Linked DNA regions of Homo sapiens. The gene in region 1 interacts genetically with each later gene. Each region holds a gene or a part of one and is shown on either strand. Other genes may lie near its edges.

The links.
Region 2: changes in INPP5K (region 1) and ASPM together harm fitness more than expected from each alone (negative genetic interaction), as found in Homo sapiens cells (one study listed by BioGRID).

The regions. Positions count from the first base shown.
Region 1 is NC_000017.11:1,512,039-1,523,407, reverse strand, and holds the start of INPP5K (inositol polyphosphate 5-phosphatase K), read left to right. Parts: upstream 1-6,795; 5' UTR 6,796-6,908; coding exon 6,909-6,952; intron 6,953-7,289; exon of another isoform or gene 7,290-7,520; intron 7,521-7,822; exon of another isoform or gene 7,823-7,981; intron 7,982-9,428; coding exon 9,429-9,536; intron 9,537-9,846; coding exon 9,847-9,955; intron 9,956-11,369. Other genes in the region: PITPNA (phosphatidylinositol transfer protein alpha isoform), read left to right, coding at 1,763-1,807. UniProt on the Homo sapiens protein: Inositol 5-phosphatase which acts on inositol 1,4,5-trisphosphate, inositol 1,3,4,5-tetrakisphosphate, phosphatidylinositol 4,5-bisphosphate and phosphatidylinositol 3,4,5-trisphosphate.
Region 2 is NC_000001.11:197,098,697-197,110,219, reverse strand, and holds part of ASPM (abnormal spindle-like microcephaly-associated protein), read left to right. Parts: intron 1-5,034; coding exon 5,035-9,789; intron 9,790-11,523. UniProt on the Homo sapiens protein: Involved in mitotic spindle regulation and coordination of mitotic processes.

The DNA.
Region 1 (11,369 bases):
TTGCGCCACTGCACTCCATCCTGGGCAACAGAGCCAGACCCTGTCTCAAACAAAACAATACAGTCTAGGGAGTTTCATTCTAGCAGCTATGCTCTTAGGTGCTCAAAATTTGTTGAACATTATAAAGAACAAAAGTTGAGCAGAAAACTAATGGATAGTGAAGAAATACTTATTGACATTCTTCACATAGAATGGAGTTTTCAAATCAGAACTGATTTTAGAGAGATGACGTCTACAGTATCCCCAGTGATGTCTGCCTGGAAGGTGCCAGTGACAGGGACCACTTGGTGCTTCCACAGAAGCCCCCATCCTGTTTTCCAGCAGCCTTGCACATCTGTGGATCTGAGACCTGCACCTGCACTTTCCACCTCTGCATCCTTGTGCCTAGTTCTGACACCACATTGTGCCCACCTTTAAACAGGTCAGGAAAGGGAAGTTCTGTTACTCTGCCGGGAACTCCTCTCCCGGAGAGCCACAGGATTTTCTCCCTCATTTCTCTCAGGTTTCATCTCAAACCTCACATACAAGCTTCTGTAACTACCTAAAATAGCACTTACCCACAGTCATTCTGTATCCGAGCAGCCCACAGTCCTAGCTGACATAGATGAATGTTTGTTCTCTGCCCATCCTGCCCCAGAATATAAGCTCCTTGAGGAGAGAACTGGTCTGTTTAGTTCACAGCTAAATATTCCCAGCCCTCTGGAAGTCCCTAGCACTAAAGAGATGCCTCACTGAGGCTGGGTGCGGTGGCTCACGCCTGTAATCCAAGCACTTCAGGAGGCCAAGGCAGGCAGATCATCTGAGGTCAGGAGTTCAAGATCAGCCTGGCCAAAATGGTGAAACCCCGTCTCCCCTAAAAATACAAAAATTAGCTGGGCGTGATGGTGCATACCTGCAATCCCAGCTACTTGGGAGGCTGAAGCAGGACAATCGCTTGAATCCAGGAGGCAGAGGTTGCAGTAAGCCAACTTTGCGCCACTGCACTCCAGCCTGGGCGACAGAGCAAGACTCCTCACACACACAAAAAAAGATGTTTCGGCCAGGCGCGGTGGCTCACGCCTGTAATCCCAGCACTTTGGGAGGCCGAGGCGGGTGGATCATGAGGTCAGGAGATCGAGACCATCCTGGCTAACAAGGTGAAACCCCGTCTCTACTAAAAATACAAAAAATTAGCCGGGCGCGGTGGCGGGCGCCTGTAGTCCCAGCTACTCGGGAGGCTGAGGCAGGAGAATGGCGTGAACCCGGGAAGCGGAGCTTGCAGTGAGCCGAGATTGCGCCACTGCAGTCCGCAGTCCGGCCTGGGCGGCAGAGCGAGACTCCGTCTCAAAAAAAAAAAGATGTTTCATAAGTATTTGTTGAATGAATAAATGAATGAAACGGGCCAAGTGTGGTGGCTCACACCTATGCTGTAATCCCAGCACTTTGGGAGGTTGAGGCAGAGGATCGTGTGAGGCCAGGAGCCCAAGACCAGCCTGGTCAACATAGGAAGACCCCCCCACACACACCTCTTTACCAAAAAAAAAAAAAAAAAAAAGGTGCTTCAAACACCGTGACACGAGAGAACTAGAAATCATGGATGGTGAGACCAGTGACACAGATCTGGAAATGTATGGCTTCGAGTCCATATGCAGAATTCTTCCGTCCTTCCAGTGTCTTGCTTTTTACACAAAATATGCCCCACCCCACCTATGGGCAGGACTGAGAAGGCAGGAGTTCCATCAGCAGCAGGAGCCTTCCATTTGTCCTGCTTTTTTTGTTCCAGATGAGACAAAAGGACCCAGTGAAAGGAATGACAGCAGATGACTAAAGCCGCCTTTCCCCTCTGCACTGTACGTACCAAATTTCTCACTGTGCGTGTCACAGACGCTAAAATCAGTTTGGGTTTCAAGGCCTCAGCAGCTCACTATGGAGTCAGAAAACCTATTCCTCCTTCCCTCTAGTAATGATGGTTGCCACGCTCGATAGCTCTCCACTTCCACTAGGAGATTATGGCCCTTGGGACATTTCAGGGACATTTTCCAAAGAACCACCCAGATAGAGACAATGGACAGGGAGGGGGTGGTGGATATAGAAGGGGAGTTCATCTGCTGCGAATCACTCCTCCTGTCTGCCAGCTTGATCCATCTCAAGTTGCAGCTGTCATGTTGGGCACTCCCTGGCCTTCCCACGCCAGCGCCAGCTCCCAAAAGCTGCCATTACCTGCCCTTCCCCCTTGGAAAACTTGCTGGCCAGACAGCTTTTGTTAGCACCCACTGTTGTCTGGTGCTTCATTTCCTTCTTTATACCCCCGATCCCATACTAAGCTGCCCTCATCAGAGGTGGCATCTTTCAGATGCTGGGAGGGTGTTTCTGCCCAGGTCACAGGGCCAGATTGGGGGCCCCTTGTTTCATGTTGTCACTTTTCCCCAAGCCCCCTCCTTCCGTTAACTCTCGGTGCTGGTTTCCCAGTGCCCTGTACACCACCCGAGTCATGGGATTCCAGCAGCTCAAAGCAGTCTTAATCACTGAATGAAAAACCTGGCTCTGCTCCCAATTAGCCTCAGAGAGAAAATTATTTTTACAAATAAAAGCTGGCCTCTAACCCTACGGGCAAGGAGGGCCAGGGTCTCACCAGGAGTGACGGCAGGCCCTGCTTACTCTCCCTGCCCCATGTTCCCAAAGCAGCCTCGGGGAGGCTGGAGGGTGGAATGAGGCGGACTGCTGTGATGCCAGCTTCTCAGTCACTGCTCTGGGCCTCAGTGCTCTCCCCCACTCCCTTCCCCACCCACCCACTGGCTTCCCTCCTCCTCTTGAAATTATCCATTCAGGACGATTTACAGTGTTTCTGTTTTCTCCTCTTGCTTCCTTAATACTTTCATTTTTCTTCTAGTTTTGCAAGACAGTGGTCAACAGGAAGACCCAGCAGCTCCACCCTCCCAAGTGACAGGCCATTTTCGGACGCAGCCGTTCTGTGCCCATTCTTCAGGCAACTTTCGATTCCTTACTGTAGCTAATTCTAGATGCCCTTCAGTATTGTGAACAAATAGACCGTCTGGTGTCACAGAGCCCGCGTGTGCAGGAGCCTGCTCCTCCGAGATACGTGGCGTGTAGGTTGCTGTAGTTACAGCGCCTCCGTCTCTCTCCATTGTGTTCCGATCCATTTCTGTGTGTTCCCCCAACCTTTATTTCCAAGTGACATTTTCAGTCTTTCAAATAGCTGCCTTTTGTGATGTGGTGATTTAAATGATTTAAGTTCATTTGTTCTCAACCTTGGGGTAAACTGAGGTATTTTGCTTCCTGGGAAGATCTTCGCAATTTTGAGTGCTCCTGTGGGGAGCGGGGATGAGCTAAAGATACAATGTTTCCCTGCCCCGCACCGCTTCCACAAAATAGCAATGTGGTTTTGCAGCTCTGACTTCTGCTCCCAGTAACCCATCGTTAGGGCACTCTAGCACTATGGAGGTACCCAAGGCTCAGCCAGTCTCTATTTAAGAAAATTTAACAAATACGAGTAACCCTGTCCCAATCACTGAATCTCTAGTTACTACTCTTAGAAACACCTGTGGCTTCTTGGCCCTCCTGTTGCCCGCTCTGAATCTCTCTGCAGTCTACAAAATCGCCCCAGTCAACTCTCCACTTGGAGGGAATTGTCCAGTGTGGCCCCTAGAATTGAGTCACCCCCTAGATACCAACTGTCTGACCCCGAGGAGCTCTGTAAGTCCCTGCTCCTCCTCTTCCCTTTGGGGCTGGTGCTGCCACTCAGCAATAATCCTCTTTTCTCTGTGCTTTCTTAGGTCCCTGTCCTCTGTCTTTGAGGCTGGTTAGGAAGCAAGAGTCCTGATCTTTCATGCTGCACAATATGAGCATGCAAAAAGCTTTTTCCAGCAGAACATGTTCCCTCGTCTCCAGTTGCCGGAAAGGAATTTGGGGATCAAGAACTTAGCTCGTCCTACCCCCATGTTGAGTTCTGCCCTGGAAAACCCAAAGCAAGTAGTGATCATAGTACAGAACCCGACCAAAGTAGGCTGGTGAGGAAGTCCAGGCTCCAGGGGAACAGACGCTGCCCAGTGTTCATAGCTTCCTGCAACTTGACAGAGCCTGAGTTTGCCTCTTAGTGGGAGAATGAGAGAGAGCTGTAGTGTCACCTGACATTCCCCAAACCTTGTGAAGCACGTTGGCCTAAGTGTGCCGTGATCCCAGCCCACACTAGCCTGGGTGCATCTGCTAATGGGAGACCAAATCTTTGTCCGGGAAGCAAGAAGTGGGTGGGAGAATGTATCCTGTTTTTGTCAGTTTGTTTGCCTTACTCATTTCTAAGTGCAATAAGGGAGTGTCTCACAGGATTGCACCTGTGACATCCTGATGGATGCTTCCCTGTGGCCCTCCTGGGGCAAGGGTGGACAGACTCAGACCCCCAGCATGGTTAGCGCTGACCTTCATTGAGGTCCCTTTGGAACCAGATGTCTTGTTACAGACACCTTCCTCTGTGTAAGTCTCCTCACCTTGAGGGGTCTTTAGTAATGCATCTGGGTAGCATCTCAACTGCTGGTAGCATTTATCTGACTTGGAAAGTTGGAGAAGAGGCATTCCTACTGGAGAAAAATGTCAGTGTTTTCCTATAAGCTCTGTGTTAGCTATTCATTATATTTGTGCTTAAAGATGTTCCTTCATTCATCAACTAGGGGAAGTCCAGATGCGGGTTATCTTGAAAGAAACAAACTGACATTCTAGGCAGACAGTTGTCTATGTGGTCTGAGGGTCAGCAGCTGTTAGTCTCCTTCCTTTGGCTCTTGAGACCCACACATATCACTTTAGCCCTAACAAGGGCTCCTCCCACCTCCACCTGTTGCCCCAGTTGAAAAGCATCCATTATGAGCTGAGGTCAGCCTGGATCTGGAATTGCAGCCCACATAAACATAAAGGAGGATGTCCCTGGTCTGTTCCATCCCCACGGATGGTGTTGCTGCTGGGCAACAGTGTTGGCTTCTTTTAAGTACCCCCTTTCCTCCTCACCCACCTCCAAACTGACTAGCACTCAGAGGGACTTATGATAAAGGTTCAGCTCCAGGGGTAGTACCTGAGTGTGTGCCATGCCCCTTCAGACCAGCTGCTTCCATCAGAATTCCAGGGTCACAGCCCCAACAGAAGCAGCAGTGCCTCTGTAGGAGGGGTGCTGGGCTCTGGCCTTCTCATGCAGAGAGGTCCGGGACAGGGTCAGTATCGTGGGCATGTGTATAGCTTCCCAAGTTCTTTTACAGTCCCTGCTGGGACTCCCTGACTTACTTTGGTTGGTTCCTAGTGCTACTTGTTTTACAAACTACACTTTGTAGAATTGATTAGATTACCTTGTTTATTTAATGTGAGTTTGTGCCTTTTTGTCTCAATCTTCCAATACAGGTATATTGAGAAAAAAAGCAGTCTAATAAAATCCTAGACAGAACTTTCTGGAGTCCAGTTTGGTGATGTCCATTTTCCAGCTGTATGTATCCTCAAACTTGCACTGATAACCGCCATTTTACCAGGGCAGGATTAGGAAGAGGTACAAAGGTGTGTCTGAAAATTTTTGCACGTGGATTTCTGCATATAATAGTCCCGTGTCAGTTTACTTATGCAAACATTGCACATCTGAATTGTAATTCGGCCGTTTCCTACTGACAGGATGTCCTTTTGCTTTTGTCTGCCTCCTCTTCACATCTTCCTCTTTATCCACCCTACCAAACAAGCAAAACATTTATTTAAAGTAGTTTTAGGCCGGGCGCGGTGGCTCACACCTGAAATCGCAGCACTCTGGGAGGCCGAGGCGGGTGGATCAGCTGAGGTCAGGAGTTCGAGACCAGCCTGACCAACATGGCGAAACCCCATCTCGGCTAATTATTATTATTATTTTTTTTTTTTGAAACGAAGTCTCGCTCTGTCGCGCAGGCTGGGGTGCAGTGGCGCAATCTCGGCTCACTGCAACCTCCACCTCCCGGGTTCAGGCGATTCTCCTGCCTCAGCCTCCCGAGTAGCTGGGATTAACAGGCGCGCGCTATCAAGCCCAGCTAGCTTTTGTGTTTTTAGCAGAGACGGGGTTTCACCATGTTAAGGCCAGGCTGGTCTTAAACTCCTGACCTCAAGTGAGCCGCCCGCCTCGGCCTCCCAAAGTGCTGGGATTACAGGCATTGAGCCACCGCGCCCCGGCCTACGTTTCATTTATTGACGGCTAATTCTGTAGGAGTCCAGGAATCCCCAAACGTCCCATATGCAATAGGTAATCCAATAAGTTTGGAGTAGAAGCCTGAAAGTGGGCGTGGAGAACGGAGGCGCTCCCGCAGTAGCAGGAATGGGGAGATTACCTGCAGCCGGGGGGCGGGGGAGACCGGATCCCAGGCAGGACAGTGGCTAGGCTGCGTGTCCCCACCCCCGACCCTCGTTTGACCCCTGGGAGCCGGGGCGAAGACAGCACAAGGACGGAGCCCTCGGATCCCTCACGAGTGGGGCAGAGGCTGCGGCGGCGGCGAAGAGACAACTTCCGCCGGAAGACGGCCCCTGGCGCGGGGCACGCTGGGAGCTGCGGACGGCGGGCGCGGGCTGGGCCGGGTCTAGTGGCGGCCGCACACCTCGCGTCGTCTGGGGCAGTGTTGCGCGTGCGCTGATGACAGGCCCGACACGCCCCTCTTACGTCCGCGAACCCGTCTTCGCTCAGCCTCTCGCAGCTTTGCGCTCGTGGGAGAGTCCCGCCTCCTTCTGCGAACCGCACCACCCAGATCCCGGGGTGCGCGGAGGGCGCGTCTCTGACGGAAGCCGGGGCGGACGGTCGGAGTCCGGAAGAAAAACAGTCCGCGACAGCTAGGCGCGTGAGACCGGCCGCCCGCAGGGCTGCTCTGGCCGGGACCCGCTGGCCGGGAGACGCGAACCTGCCGGACCACCGCGCGGGGACGACGGCGGCCATGAGCTCGCGGAAGCTGAGCGGGCCGAAAGGCAGGAGGCTCAGGTGAGGGCACCCTGGCGGCAGAGGCAGGCCTGCTCGGGGGGATCGGCGCCCCTTGGGCTGCGGGCTGGGGGTGGACAAGGCACCAGACCTCCATGACTGCCTTTGGTTCAGAGGCGCTCTCGCCTTCTCCCACGCCTGTGTCAGGTGGGCTGTGTTGGGCCCGAGCCTCGCGCCCCCTCTAAGCCGAGGCCGCCAAGCTCGTTCCCACTGGGGCGCAGCAGGTGTCCCGGTTGCTTTCTGGAGAGGACAGCCGTGTGGGGTTGTTTGAGGTTAAAGACATAACGAGGCCGTCACCCTTCGGCTCTCGGTTAGAAATCTTTTTCCTACTTTTCATCAGCACATACATCAGGAGGTCTGCCTGATCCCATGGTGAACCCCGGGAATCCGAAATCAGATTGAGATAAGATCCTTTAGGGAAGTGACTTAGCCTGGTCTCTTGCCTGCTCTTTCACGGGGAACAACGCTAATCGCCCACTTAGTCTAAGTCACGATGCTTGGATTTGCTGCTAATCGTCGGATTTGAGAGTGGGAACAAGAAATCCGGACTTTTGCTCTCCATCCTCTTAGAGTGAGTCTGGGAAAAGAAGTCTCTGAGTAAAAGGTCTTTGTTCCTTAAGCCTCTGTCGGACAGCAGGGGGAGATCGTAAACAAATGAAGCTCAAAATCTCAGGCCGAGTGCCTGGGAAGGTGGTTTCTGTATAGTGTTGTTTATGCTAACAGGGAGGGACAGGAAGTTGCTTTAAACTGGCCAAGAATTTCTTGAAGTGCTTTTGAGAACGTCGACCTCTAAGGACGGGGTCTGTTGGAGGAGAGATGTTTTGGCATTAACTGCCCTTTTCTCCCATCCCCCTGTACCCTCTGCCATTCCAGATCTCCAGCTGCTGCAGGTACTCCTCATCGTGTGCCTAGGACTCATGCTAGGCTGTTCCTGGTCTCTGCAGGGTCTGTAGCTCCTGCCCGCTCTGTGCTCCGCACAGTCTGAGGCTTCTTGAAGAGCTGCTGTGACTGACTGTTCCACTAAAGACATCTGTAGGTCTCTCTTTCCTGAGCCTCTGACTGGATCCAGTGTCATTGAGGCCCCTTATCTAGTTTTCTTGCTTCCCTAAGACTTGTAAGCTGAGGTGGAAAATATCCAACTGATGACTTTTCCCCAGAGAGTACTCTTTATTTTTCACGGAATACTACGCAGACATAGAGCATAGACTCTTAAGAGAGATGTCGAGAAACCTGTTACTTAAAAACTCCTTGGCCGGGCGCGGTGGCTCAGGCCTGTAATCCCAGCACTTTGGGAGGCTGAGGCGGGCGGATCACCTGAGAGATCAGGAGTTCAGGACCAGCCTGGCCAACATGGTGAAACCCCGTCTCTACTAAAAATACAAAAGTTAGCCAGATGTGGTGGCACACACCTGTAATCCCAGCTACTTGGGAGGTTGAGGCAGGAGAACTGCTGGAACCTGGGAGGCGGAGGCTGCGATGAGCCGAGATCATCCCAGTCCACTCCAGCCTGGGCAACAGAGTGAGACTCAGTCTCAAAAAAAAAAAAAAAAAAAGTCTCGCTGAAGTGCTTGGCAAAATTGGCTTGCTCCAGGGATCTGCTAGGGAGGAGAGAGGAAGGGAATATGGTGGTGTTATCTCTTTTATTTTTTAAATTCCTCTGCCCTTGTAGTGCTGAGGCCTATCACAAGGTGAAATCTGAATCCCTAGGATCTTCCTGGTGGTCTTAGGAACACTTGGGGTGAGAAGTAGGGATCAGAAGTTGCCGACTGAGCCATAGATGATGACAGAGGGGTGTGGGTGGCTGGAGGAGCTGATGGAATTAATACATTCCTGGCAGTTCAGCCCCCTAACCCTTCGCTAGCCTGACCTGAAATTCTTGGGCTCCCTTTGGCGACTCTGCTATATCAGCAGCACCAGTGCTGCCGGGTGTGGGTGGCTGTGAGCCAGCATGGAGGACCCAGTCCGGGGTGGGGATTTCTTGCTTCAGCAGAGAAAGGTGAGGACGGACAGCTGATGGTTCAGTATCCCCATTCCCTCCACCAGCACAGAAACCCACATTTCCCATCATGAGTGTGGCAGATTGCAGTGACATAAGCAGGCCTAGACCCCGTGCACTATCTTTTTTTTTTTTCTTTTGAGACAGAGTCTCACTCTGTCACCCAGGCTGGAGTGCAGTGGCACAATGTCGGCTCACTGCAACCTCTGCCTCGTGGGTTCAAGCAATTCTCCTGCCTCAGCCTCCAGAGTAGCTGGGATTACAGGCGCCTGCCACCATGCTGGGCTAATTTTTGTACTTTTAGTAGAGACGGGGTTTCACCATGTTGGCCAGGCTTGTCTCGAACTCCCGACCTCAGGTGATCCGCCCACCTCGGCCGCCCAAAGTGCTGTGATGACAACGTGTGAGCCTCTGCGCCCAGCCGACCCCGTGCACTATCTTATCCTCCTTCCTCCATGACTTCCCTCTGCATCCCTTCCGCAGCATACACGTCGTGACTTGGAACGTGGCTTCGGCAGCGCCCCCTCTAGATCTCAGTGACCTGCTTCAGCTGAACAACCGGAACCTCAATCTTGACATATATGTTATTGGGTAGGTATCTGCAGGCTCCTTCGCCCATCCCTGACCAGTCCCAGGTTTCCCTGTGGGAAGCACTGTGACCTGCCCTCCTCCGCTCTGGAGTCTGAAGGCTGGGAGCTTTCAGCCTGCTTCAGGGACAGTCCCATGTCTCTGGTCCCGGGTCAGCAACGGCAAAGGGGGCTGGAGATCAGCAGGCAGGGGAGGGAGACCTCATGGCCATCAGAACTCAGGCCTTGAAAGTCCGTGAAGATGGTATCAAATATCTGTGGCAGGGGAAGTAGCCTGGAGGCCAGGGGCCAAGCCTCTGAGCTGGCATGGTCAGTTTGCAGGAATTGAACTCTGGGATCATAAGCCTCCTTTCCGATGCTGCCTTTAATGACTCGTGGAGCAGTTTCCTCATGGATGTGCTTTCCCCTCTGAGCTTCATCAAGGTAACTTGCCAGTTCATTGGCACTTGACAACTGTGTTTTCACATCTCCACTGACCCCTGCTTGTTGGGTCTGATGTGTTCCTCTTACTCCTGCTCAGCCTTTCATGCTGTTTCCCATTTGTTTAAAGGGCTAAACCTCCCTTCCACCTGGACCCCGGGGCCCCTGCCTGCCTTCGCCTTTCTGAGGGAGCTGGAGTCTCCAGGGGTTGGGTTAACACCTGGATATGTTTCAGCTTGGGAAGATTCTGAGGGGAGGTGCAGCAGGGCTTGTCATCACCTCAGTGCTGGCCGCTGCCCCAGCCACCAGTCTCTACTCAAATGCCCATCCTGAAGTCTCTGAGTGTAATCATACGGCTGTCATTTATCAAGTGCTTACTTGTTGTTACACATCATAAGTAGCTCTTTATAGTATATATGTTATTTTAAAATCTTAACAAGTCTGTTGAAATAGAGATATTTTACAGAGAAAACCATGGCTCAGAAGCCACATGCGCTATCTGGGATTTGGATCCAGATCTCTCAAACTTCATAACCCAAGTTCTTAACTACTAATACCTTATTGCTATGCTGGTGAACTCTAAGACTGACAGATCTTAGGCGTGGCTAGCCTGCTGGTGTCATAGGGTATCCTCAGGTCATACGGGACGTGCACTTCAGATTCTGGGGGTCCAGAGGTTAGGAGAGGGGAGTCAGGTGTGGTGGGTACTTTGGGCGGCTTTCTTAGTCTGAGAGACCAGTATACTCTGGGGTGTCTTTAGACAGTAGGAGAGTCCACAGGAAGGCCCTGGGTTGCCAGATCTTCACCTTCACCTTGGTTCTGCCCTGCACACCTGAGGAATGAAACACACTCCCATTCACAGCACCTGGTATACAGCTGCTTAGAAATACCAGAATTCCCTCTTTCCCCTTCCTGGATGACTCTTGTTCTTCAGAATGGATTCTGTCAGCCTAGTTTGCCTGGGGGTACTGAGGCAAGAGCTGTGTGTCCTTTGGAGGGGGAGCAGAATGGGGAGGAAAGAATCTAAGGTTTAGAACTCCTGCTGAGGATAGAAAACACCAGCCCGAGTCCTTGGTTCCCTCCACATCAAACCCAGAGGCCTCCTTCTGTAGATAGGGAGCTAGATCCTTACAGAGGACACAACCACTTCTCTCTCACCCGCCACTCCCTTCCCAAGACTGCAGGCCTCCTTGCTTCTCGGCTGACTGGCAAAGGATTGGTAGGATGGAATTGAGCCAAGGAAATTAGCTCAACTTGTGGCAGAGACACAGCCCTTTCTACCCATGTGGCCTACTGAGATTGGGAGGCCAGACTGAGGGCCTGGCACCCAAAATGAATGCCCTTCTTTCCCCAGCCAAGAATCAGGGTGGATGGGTGAGCTCCGTGCATTTGCCAGCTATAGACTGAGAAGGGCTGA
Region 2 (11,523 bases), on another chromosome or scaffold:
ATACCTTCATCAATACCACAGTTTCTTGATTACTGCAGCTTTATAGTAAGCCTTAATGGATATTGTGATTCGTCCAATTTTATTCTTTTTTCAAAATGAGTTGGAATTTTCTAGTTGCTTTGTCTTTCCATTTAAGTTTTAGGTTAGTTTTTCTATGTCCTCAAAAAATACTGTCAAATTTTGATTGAAATTGCATCACATTTACAGATATTTTGAGGTACACTGACAACTTTACTATGTTGATTATTCTGATTCATAAAGGTGATACATATCTCCATTTATTTAGATCTTTGAGTTGTTCATCATCAGCTTTTTGTTAGATTCATACCTCAGTATCTTATTTTATTTTGGAGCTATTATAAATAGTATTGCTTTTTAATTTCAGTTCCCATTTGTTTCTTTTTTATAAACATTCATCCTTATATGTTAACCCTTTAACATATAAAAGGGTTAACTATTAATCCTGTTAAAAAAACTCACTTATTTCTATGAAGTTTTTATGTTTGTTTTTGTTTTAGATTCTTTGAGATTTTCTACATAGTCGTGTTGTCTGCCTTTCTTTCCAATCTAAATATTCTTTCTATTTTTTATTTCCCCCACTTATTTTATTGGCTAAGAATTCCAGTATGATGCTAAATAGGAGTGGTAAGATTCAATATCTTTGCCTTGTTCACGCATTAAGTATTATATAAACTGTAGTTTTCTTGTAGATGCCCTTTATCAGGTTGAAGGAGTCTCTGTTTCTTAGCTTACTGAGAGTTTTATCACATAGATTTGGGTTTCATTAAATACTTTTTCTGCTTCAATGGATATATTAACATTTATTGGGTTTCTAATCTTACTGTAAACTTACATTCCAAGGATAAAATTCAAATATTAGTTATGTATTTTTTATATGCATTGATATTTCATTAATTCCACTTGCTAGTATTTTATTGAAGAGTTTTGCATCTGTGTAATGAGTTGGGAAGTTTCAGCGTTCTTTTATGTTTTCTGGAAGAGATTGTTGACATGTTATTATTTTGTCTTTAATTATTTTATACAACTCACCAGTGATACTATCTTAGAGTGGAAATTTCTATTTTATTTTATTTTTTTCCTCTTTTTTTACTTGACATAATTGTGCATATTCATAAAGCACATAGTGATGTTTTGATACATATACTGTATAGCGATCACATTAGGACAATTAGCATATTCATCATCTCAAACATTCTTCTCTGGACTTTTTTTTTTTTTTTTTTTTTTGGAGACAGGGTCTTGCTCTGTCGCCCAGGCTAGAGTACAGTGGTGCAAACACAGCTCACTGCAGCCTCAATCTCCTAGGCTCAAGCCATCATCCCACCTCAGCCTCCCAAGTAGCTGAGACTACAGGCATGTACCACCACACTCAACTAATTTTTGTATTTTTTGTGGAGATAGGGTCTCACTAAATTCCCCAGGCTGGTCTCGAACTCCTGGGCTCTAGTCATCCTCCTGCCTTGGCCTCCTAAAGTGCTAGGAATACAGGTGTGAGCTACTACACCTTGCCAGATTCTGTTTTTTAAATTTGTATAGGACTATTTATCTTTGATGAGTTTTGGCAGTTTCTAATTTTCGAAGAATTGGTCCATTTCATCCAAGTTGTTGAATTTACCATATGTATATACAAAGTATATCTTTAATATCCTTTTGATGCCTGGGTAGTCTGTAGTGATATTCCCTTTTTCATTCCTGATATTGATAATTTGTATCTTCTCTTTTCTTCTTTGTCAGTCTTGCTAGAGTTTTAACTCTCTTGATCTTTTCAGTGGACAACCCTTTGGCTTCATTGGTCTCTGCTCAGTCTTTATTATTTCTTGTTTTGATTAATTTTGCTTTTCTGTCTATAGTTTCTTTAAGTATAATCTTGAGTAACTGATTTGAGTCCTTCCACTTTTAATGTAACACATTAATGGTATAAATTTTCTTCTAAATACAGGTTTAGCCACATACTACAAATTTTGATATGGTATTTTTTTTTCATTCAGTTCAAATAGTTTTTAATTTCTCTTGAGGCTTTTTCTATGATTTAAAGTTTCAGAATATGTTATTTACTTTCTAAATGTTTGGAGATTTTCCTATTATTTTTCTGTTAGTGACTTTTTCTTCAATTCCATTATGACCAGAGCACATACTGTGATTTCAATTCTTTCCTATTTGATAACCTTTAGTTTATGATCCACAATATGGTCTATCATGGTCAGAGGTTGGTATATCTGCAGGCCAAATTTGGCCTACCATGTGTTTTTATAAATAGAGTTTTTTAGAATATGGTCACAACTATTTGTTTATGTATTATTTGGGAGCTGCTTTTGTACTACAATAGCATAATTGACTTGTTGCAACAGAATTGGCCCACAAAGCTGAGATATTTGCCATCTTGGCTGTCATCTCCATTCTGCTATTGTGCCATACCAGTGAATTTTTATTTTGGTTAGTGTGTTTTTCGGTTCTACTATTCTCACTTGGTTCTTACTCATATCTTTGATGTCTTTACTGAGACTTTTTATCTTTCCATTAGTTTCAACTTGTTGTAGCATTTTTACTTTATCTGCTCTAAAGTCGTTGTCAGTTAATTCCAATTCCAGTATCTTTGTCATCTCATCATTGGTGTCTATTGATTATCTTTTCTTGTGAGAGTTGAAATTTTTCTGTTATGTTGTATGTCAAATAATTTTTAATTGCATTCTGGAAATTTAATGTTATGTTATCAGACTCTATGTTTTGTTTAAATCCTATGGAGAATGTTGATATTTTAGTTTTAGCAGCTAATTCACTTGATTGGGTTCAGGCCACCTGTTCTCATCAGCCTTCCATGAGCGTAGCTTCAGTGACAGTTCCTTTTTGAAAGCCTTTACAGTGAGTGATATTTGTATCATATCAGTTTCATTATGTAACACCCAGTAGCCAGTCTGGGATCTAGATTGTGATCTGTATCTTATTCAATTCTTAAAGTCTATAGCCTACTGTGGTCTAGATTCACATTGTGCACAACTTGGTGGTGAACCTAGAAATTCATAAACAACATTATCAGATTGCTTCCCTGAGCTCCCCAGTCTCTACCATCTCCCTGGTACCCTCTAGTTCCTCAGGGCTGCCTTGTTTCATCATCTGACCAGAAAACTGAAGATTGAGTTACACTGCTCTACTGCATTCTTTCCATGACTGCGCCCATATCTCAAGCAGAGAAACTCTTTTGTATGAGGAAAAACAAAGTATGGCACAGGTTATAGTTACTGGGAGAGATGAAGAATTGGGCTGTTAATGCACTCAACCTGCTGCAGATATCTGTGGTAGAGTAGAAAGAACATTTGATTTTGGTGTAATAATGTAGATCCTAAGATCAATTATTTTTATTTGCTGTGGGACTTTGCAAAAAGTTTTGTAACATTAGTGTTCCTTTCTTTAAGTGAAGAAACAATGCCAACTTAATGTATTTTTGTGAGAATTAAGTGAGAAAATTGTATGTAATGTGTTCCTTAGTAAAAGCTATTTATTTTTAAGAATTGTATGACAATGGTGAAAAAATTGCTATTGTAATAAGCAAAACTGTTAGGAGAGGAGATGATCATATCTTCCATGTTATATATCAACATTGATTAACATTTCAGTAATGGAGTAGTAATAGTAATGTAGAAAAAGTGATTATTAAAGTATAAAACAATCTGTACACACTGATTCTTCAATTTCTTAGTTTGAGGATTTTACATAGAAATATCTGTTGGGGGTGGGTGCTCAAAAGAAAAATAATATCTGAATTTCTGAGTACTATTACTGCTTTACTTTGCCCTAATTTAAAGCAAGTTAATACTTTATGTAGAGTTTATTGTTTTCAAAATACTTTTGTACAAATAAGTTTGACTGTTGTTGGATAAATATTTTGACAACTTGTGCATCTCTTCTTGGTAAGATAAAATGTATACAATCATTTCCTGTCAGGTTGAAGAGTATGAACAAAACCTCAGGTAACATTTAGTAGAGGAAGAAGACAATAAAACTTACAGGAAAAGGGTCAGGAAAAGGGATGTGCATGTTCTCCTTAAGCTTCCTCACCCATGGATAGGTATGCTTAGGCCAGTGATAGCTGCAAGCAAACTCGATACTGCTATAGGAGAGCGAGGTACCCAGTCCCTATATTACTCTACTTATATGCGAGAAAAAGTAAGATGTAGTAGAGAACAACCTCTCCATGCCACCCCCAATCTCAGCAATGTTTGGAGTGTTTGTACAAAGGAATGGTCTTATTGCTAAAACATCTAGAACTTGACTACCATTAGCCTGGGACCATTTTAGATACCAGCAACTGGAATTAGCTTGAGAGTTTGTAGCTCTTTTTGTTGAGCCAACATACAGTTGGATTAGCCATTGTAACCATGGCTTTTCAAAAGACAAAAGTTTTGTCATTTCTCAAGTCTTTCTAGAATTCTACTTTTAAGCCATGTATTTATAGTTCCTAAATTTGGGAAAAGGAAGTAATTTTATTCTTAATGAAAATAATGACTCTGAGAGTGATCTGGTTTATTTATTCCTAAATTCCTATATTTATATTATCAGGCCTGTAATGTGATAATGCAGGATCCTTCACATAAACAGTTTCTAGTCATTATAAGGTAGCTTAGAAACATTGAAGTAAGGGGACCATATAAGGCCCAGAAATAAACTCATAGGAAATTACTTAGAATCAATAGATAGCAAAGAATATTACTATAGTTTTATTTTGACTCTTTTGCTTGTAATATAACATAAACTTGCTTATGTTTCTTATGATTCTGGCATACAAATGCAGTATTTAAATATAATGAAGATTTGGATGGATTTCTGAATTGGCTACAGGTATATCAATGTAAAACCTAAACTAAAAACAAAAGAGACAAATATCTCACAAAAATAATTAGTTTTCTAATTCAATGTGTTTATTTTTAAGCAGAATGTTAGAAAAATTAGTATTTTGAAAAGTGTTAAATATAGAAAGCTATGCCTATTTTACTTTGTGTCCTTTCTTACCTTTTCCAGGGATATTGGAGAAGATATTCCACTAGACAAAGATTTCTGAAATTGAAATATTATTCAATCATCCTGCAATCTAGGATAAGAATGATAATTGCTGTTACATCTTATAAACGATATCTTTGGGCTACAGTTACAATTCAGAGGCATTGGCGTGCTTATTTAAGAAGAAAACAAGATCAACAAAGATATGAAATGCTAAAATCATCAACTCTTATAATCCAATCTATGTTCAGAAAATGGAAGCAACGTAAAATGCAATCACAAGTAAAAGCTACAGTAATATTGCAAAGAGCTTTTAGAGAATGGCATTTAAGAAAACAAGCTAAAGAAGAAAATTCTGCTATTATCATACAATCATGGTATAGAATGCATAAAGAATTACGGAAATATATTTATATTAGATCTTGTGTTGTTATCATTCAGAAAAGATTTCGGTGCTTTCAAGCCCAAAAGTTATATAAAAGAAGAAAAGAGTCCATACTAACCATCCAGAAGTACTACAAAGCATATCTGAAAGGAAAGATTGAGCGCACCAACTATTTGCAGAAACGAGCTGCAGCCATTCAATTACAAGCTGCTTTTAGGAGACTGAAAGCTCATAATTTATGTAGACAAATTAGAGCTGCTTGTGTTATTCAGTCATACTGGAGAATGAGACAAGACAGAGTTCGATTTTTAAACCTTAAGAAGACTATTATCAAATTTCAGGCACATGTAAGAAAACATCAACAACGACAGAAATATAAGAAGATGAAGAAAGCAGCTGTTATAATTCAGACTCATTTCCGAGCTTATATTTTTGCCATGAAAGTTCTAGCATCTTACCAGAAAACACGCTCTGCTGTCATTGTGCTGCAGTCTGCATATAGAGGGATGCAAGCCAGGAAAATGTATATTCACATCCTCACATCTGTTATAAAGATTCAATCATATTATCGTGCTTATGTTTCTAAAAAGGAATTTTTGAGCCTAAAAAATGCTACAATAAAATTGCAGTCAACTGTTAAGATGAAACAAACACGTAAACAATATTTGCATTTAAGAGCAGCTGCACTATTTATCCAGCAATGTTACCGTTCCAAAAAAATAGCTGCACAAAAGAGAGAAGAGTATATGCAGATGCGGGAATCTTGTATCAAACTGCAAGCATTTGTTAGAGGATACCTTGTCCGAAAGCAGATGAGGTTACAAAGAAAAGCTGTTATTTCACTACAGTCTTATTTCAGAATGAGAAAGGCTCGGCAGTATTATCTGAAAATGTATAAAGCAATTATTGTCATTCAGAATTACTATCATGCATACAAAGCACAGGTCAATCAGAGGAAGAACTTCTTGCAAGTCAAAAAAGCAGCTACTTGCTTGCAAGCAGCTTACAGAGGTTATAAAGTACGCCAGCTAATCAAACAACAATCTATAGCTGCTCTTAAAATTCAGTCTGCTTTTAGAGGCTATAATAAAAGGGTAAAATATCAATCTGTGCTTCAATCTATAATAAAGATTCAGAGATGGTACAGGGCGTACAAGACTCTTCATGATACAAGAACACATTTTTTGAAGACAAAGGCAGCTGTGATTTCCCTCCAGTCTGCTTATCGTGGCTGGAAGGTTCGGAAACAGATTAGAAGGGAACATCAAGCTGCCTTGAAGATTCAGTCTGCTTTTAGAATGGCCAAGGCCCAGAAACAGTTTAGATTGTTTAAAACAGCAGCATTAGTCATCCAGCAAAATTTCAGAGCATGGACTGCAGGAAGGAAGCAATGTATGGAGTATATTGAACTCCGTCATGCGGTACTGGTGCTTCAATCTATGTGGAAGGGAAAAACACTGAGAAGACAGCTTCAAAGGCAACATAAATGTGCTATCATCATACAGTCATACTATAGAATGCATGTGCAACAAAAGAAGTGGAAAATCATGAAAAAAGCTGCTCTTCTGATTCAAAAGTATTATAGGGCTTACAGTATTGGAAGAGAACAGAATCATTTATATTTGAAAACAAAAGCAGCTGTAGTAACTTTACAGTCAGCTTATCGTGGTATGAAAGTGAGAAAAAGAATAAAGGATTGCAACAAAGCAGCAGTCACTATACAGTCTAAATACAGAGCTTACAAAACCAAAAAGAAATATGCAACCTATAGAGCTTCAGCTATTATAATTCAGAGATGGTATCGAGGTATTAAAATTACAAACCATCAGCATAAGGAGTATCTTAATTTGAAGAAGACAGCAATTAAAATCCAATCTGTTTATAGAGGTATTAGAGTTAGAAGACATATTCAACACATGCACAGGGCAGCCACTTTTATTAAAGCCATGTTTAAAATGCATCAGTCAAGAATAAGTTACCATACAATGAGAAAAGCAGCTATTGTTATTCAAGTAAGATGTAGAGCATATTATCAAGGTAAAATGCAGCGTGAAAAGTACCTGACAATTTTGAAAGCTGTTAAAGTCCTTCAGGCAAGTTTTAGAGGAGTAAGAGTTAGACGGACTCTTAGAAAGATGCAGACTGCAGCAACACTCATTCAGTCAAACTACAGAAGATACAGACAGCAAACATACTTTAATAAGTTAAAGAAAATAACAAAAACAGTACAGCAAAGATACTGGGCAATGAAAGAAAGAAACATACAATTTCAAAGGTATAACAAACTGAGGCATTCTGTAATATACATTCAGGCTATTTTTAGGGGAAAGAAAGCTAGAAGACATTTAAAAATGATGCATATAGCCGCAACTCTCATTCAGAGGAGATTTAGAACTCTAATGATGAGAAGAAGATTCCTCTCTCTCAAGAAAACTGCTATTTTGATTCAGAGAAAATATCGGGCACATCTTTGTACAAAGCATCACTTACAGTTCCTTCAGGTACAAAATGCAGTTATTAAAATCCAGTCATCATACAGAAGATGGATGATAAGGAAAAGGATGCGAGAGATGCACAGGGCTGCTACTTTCATCCAGTCTACTTTCAGAATGCACAGATTACATATGAGATATCAGGCTTTGAAACAGGCCTCCGTTGTGATCCAACAGCAATACCAAGCAAATAGAGCTGCAAAACTGCAGAGGCAGCATTATCTCAGACAAAGACACTCTGCTGTGATCCTTCAGGCTGCATTCAGGGGTATGAAAACTAGAAGACATTTGAAGAGTATGCATTCCTCTGCAACCCTTATTCAGAGTAGGTTTAGATCATTACTGGTGAGGAGAAGATTCATTTCCCTCAAAAAAGCTACTATTTTTGTTCAGAGGAAATATCGAGCCACCATTTGTGCCAAACATAAATTGTACCAATTCTTGCACTTAAGAAAGGCAGCCATTACAATACAGTCATCTTACAGAAGACTGATGGTAAAGAAGAAGTTACAAGAAATGCAAAGGGCTGCAGTTCTCATTCAGGCTACTTTCAGGATGTACAGAACATATATTACATTTCAGACTTGGAAACATGCTTCAATTCTAATTCAGCAACATTATCGAACATATAGAGCTGCAAAATTACAAAGAGAAAATTATATCAGACAATGGCATTCTGCTGTGGTTATTCAGGCTGCATATAAAGGAATGAAAGCAAGACAACTTTTAAGGGAAAAACACAAAGCTTCTATCGTAATACAAAGCACCTACAGAATGTATAGGCAGTATTGTTTCTACCAAAAGCTTCAGTGGGCTACAAAAATCATACAAGAAAAATATAGAGCAAATAAAAAGAAACAGAAAGTATTTCAACACAATGAACTTAAGAAAGAGACTTGTGTTCAGGCAGGTTTTCAGGACATGAACATAAAAAAACAGATTCAGGAACAGCACCAGGCTGCCATTATTATTCAGAAGCATTGTAAAGCCTTTAAAATAAGGAAGCATTATCTCCACCTTAGAGCAACAGTAGTTTCTATTCAAAGAAGATACAGAAAACTAACTGCAGTGCGTACCCAAGCAGTTATTTGTATACAGTCTTATTACAGAGGCTTTAAAGTACGAAAGGATATTCAAAATATGCACCGGGCTGCCACACTAATTCAGTCATTCTATCGAATGCACAGGGCCAAAGTTGATTATGAAACAAAGAAAACTGCAATTGTGGTTATACAGAATTATTATAGGTTGTATGTTAGAGTAAAAACAGAAAGAAAAAACTTTTTAGCAGTTCAGAAATCTGTACGAACTATTCAGGCTGCTTTTAGAGGCATGAAAGTTAGACAAAAATTGAAAAATGTATCAGAGGAAAAGATGGCAGCCATTGTTAACCAATCTGCACTCTGCTGTTACAGAAGTAAAACTCAGTATGAAGCTGTTCAAAGTGAAGGTGTTATGATTCAAGAGTGGTATAAAGCTTCTGGCCTTGCTTGTTCACAGGAAGCAGAGTATCATTCTCAAAGTAGGGCTGCAGTAACAATTCAAAAAGCTTTTTGTAGAATGGTCACAAGAAAACTGGAAACACAGAAATGTGCTGCCCTACGGATTCAGTTCTTCCTTCAGATGGCTGTGTATCGGAGAAGATTTGTTCAGCAGAAAAGAGCTGCTATCACTTTACAGCATTATTTTAGGACGTGGCAAACCAGAAAACAGTTTTTACTATATAGAAAAGCAGCAGTGGTTTTACAAAATCACTACAGAGCATTTCTGTCTGCAAAACATCAAAGACAAGTCTATTTACAGATCAGAAGCAGTGTTATCATTATTCAAGCTAGAAGTAAAGGATTTATACAGAAACGGAAGTTTCAGGAAATTAAAAATAGCACCATAAAAATTCAGGTATTTCTATATTTAATTTAAATATAAAACTGTGAGTCTTTCTTTTGACCAATATTTGTTAGAATGTATAAAATGAGCTTAAGCAGGTCATAAAGAATAGTACTTAGTTGAGGTGACCATTTATCTTCCAAAGTGGAACATTTTTGAAAGAGGGAAAGGGCACTAGTAAGTCAGCCAAGACAGCACAGAACGGGGATTGTTCTGGCCATGGTCACCCTATGTGTGGTGCATTTCAGTATGGGTTAATTGTAGCACTCTTAGAAGAATTTTGAGAAAATAGGAGTCCTGTATTTGGCAAAGTTATTTCTTTAAGTGGAAAATATAAGCTAAGATAAAGTATTATTTGGCATAATATAGGCAAAATAGAGTAACTTTGTTCCTCTAATAATCTATTAACCAGAGCTGTTTGCTGCTTAGGCTAGTAGACATACTTTATTCTGAGTGTTTAGTACTTTGGCTTCCAAATCAATTTTGTATTATTTTGTTTTGTCTATTTGCCAAATGTGTGAGGAATGTACAGTATTATCTCTTTTAAAATATGAAGGAAGTGATAAAGTTTAAGTAATTTGGCCAATGTTGCATAGAGAGAGGCAGATCCAGGAACTGAATCTAAGTACTTCAGCTATTTCTTTTTACCTGCAATAACCCAGGCTTTAACCCAGATGTGATATGTTCATATCTTACTGGATTACTGTTAAATTTAGAAATAATGTTTTAATTCAAGAAATGTCAAGTGCTAGAAATGTGCCAAATGCTGTAGTGGGTGTTATAAATAGACAATGAGTAAGATATACTTAGTTGCTGTCCTCAAGGAACTTAATTGAACAAGGAAGTATAATTATAATACAACATGAGAAGTGTATGTTTCAGGAAACACAGAATGGGAAATCAAGCTAGTCTCCATGGTCAGAGACTTCCCAGAGTGAGTAACATTTAAGTTGAAATGTTACACTGAAGTATGAATTAGAAATAGCCCAGTAAAAGGTATAGAAGAATATTCCAATTGCAAGAGATAACGTGGAAAAATCAAAAAACTAGAAACAATAAAAAGTGATATGGGACCAGGTTGGCAATAGAGGGAGTAAGATTGTGGATAGATTTTTAAGACAGAAAAAATTTAGTCTTTATGCTCCAGACAAAACAAATTCTAGAGGAGTTTAAGCAGGAGAAGACCACAGTCATTTTTATTAAAAAAAAAAAAAAAATTACTCTGGCAGGAATGTGGAAGATGGACTGGAAAAGGAGCAAGACTAGAATCAGGTAGACCAAATGAAAATAGGCAGTAAGCCAGGTGAGAAAGAGTTATAGTTCAGTGTAGGTTTGTGACAATGGGATTGTAAGTTGGCATTATATAGAGCATGAACAAGGAGGCAAGCCATGTTGATGGCTTAAGTAACTCAGCAGAGTTACTCCCTCACACCCTGACATAGGGAATAAAGAGGGAAGAGCAGGTTTTGAGATTGATGATGAATTCAGTTTGGAGTATATAAGATCTGAAGTACCTAGCAGGTAACCCCCTTGAAATATCTAGTAAGGCAGTTGACTATGTTTGTCTGGAGTTCAGGAGAGTAGTGTGAGTATTAGAATTTGATTTGTACATTATGGGCATATGCTAATAATTAAAGTTCTGGGAATAATGAGATCACCAAGGAACAATACATAAAATGAGTGAACAAAGAGGGCCTGGGACTTGAGCCCTGAAGAACATCAAAATTCACAGACATTGACAAGAGA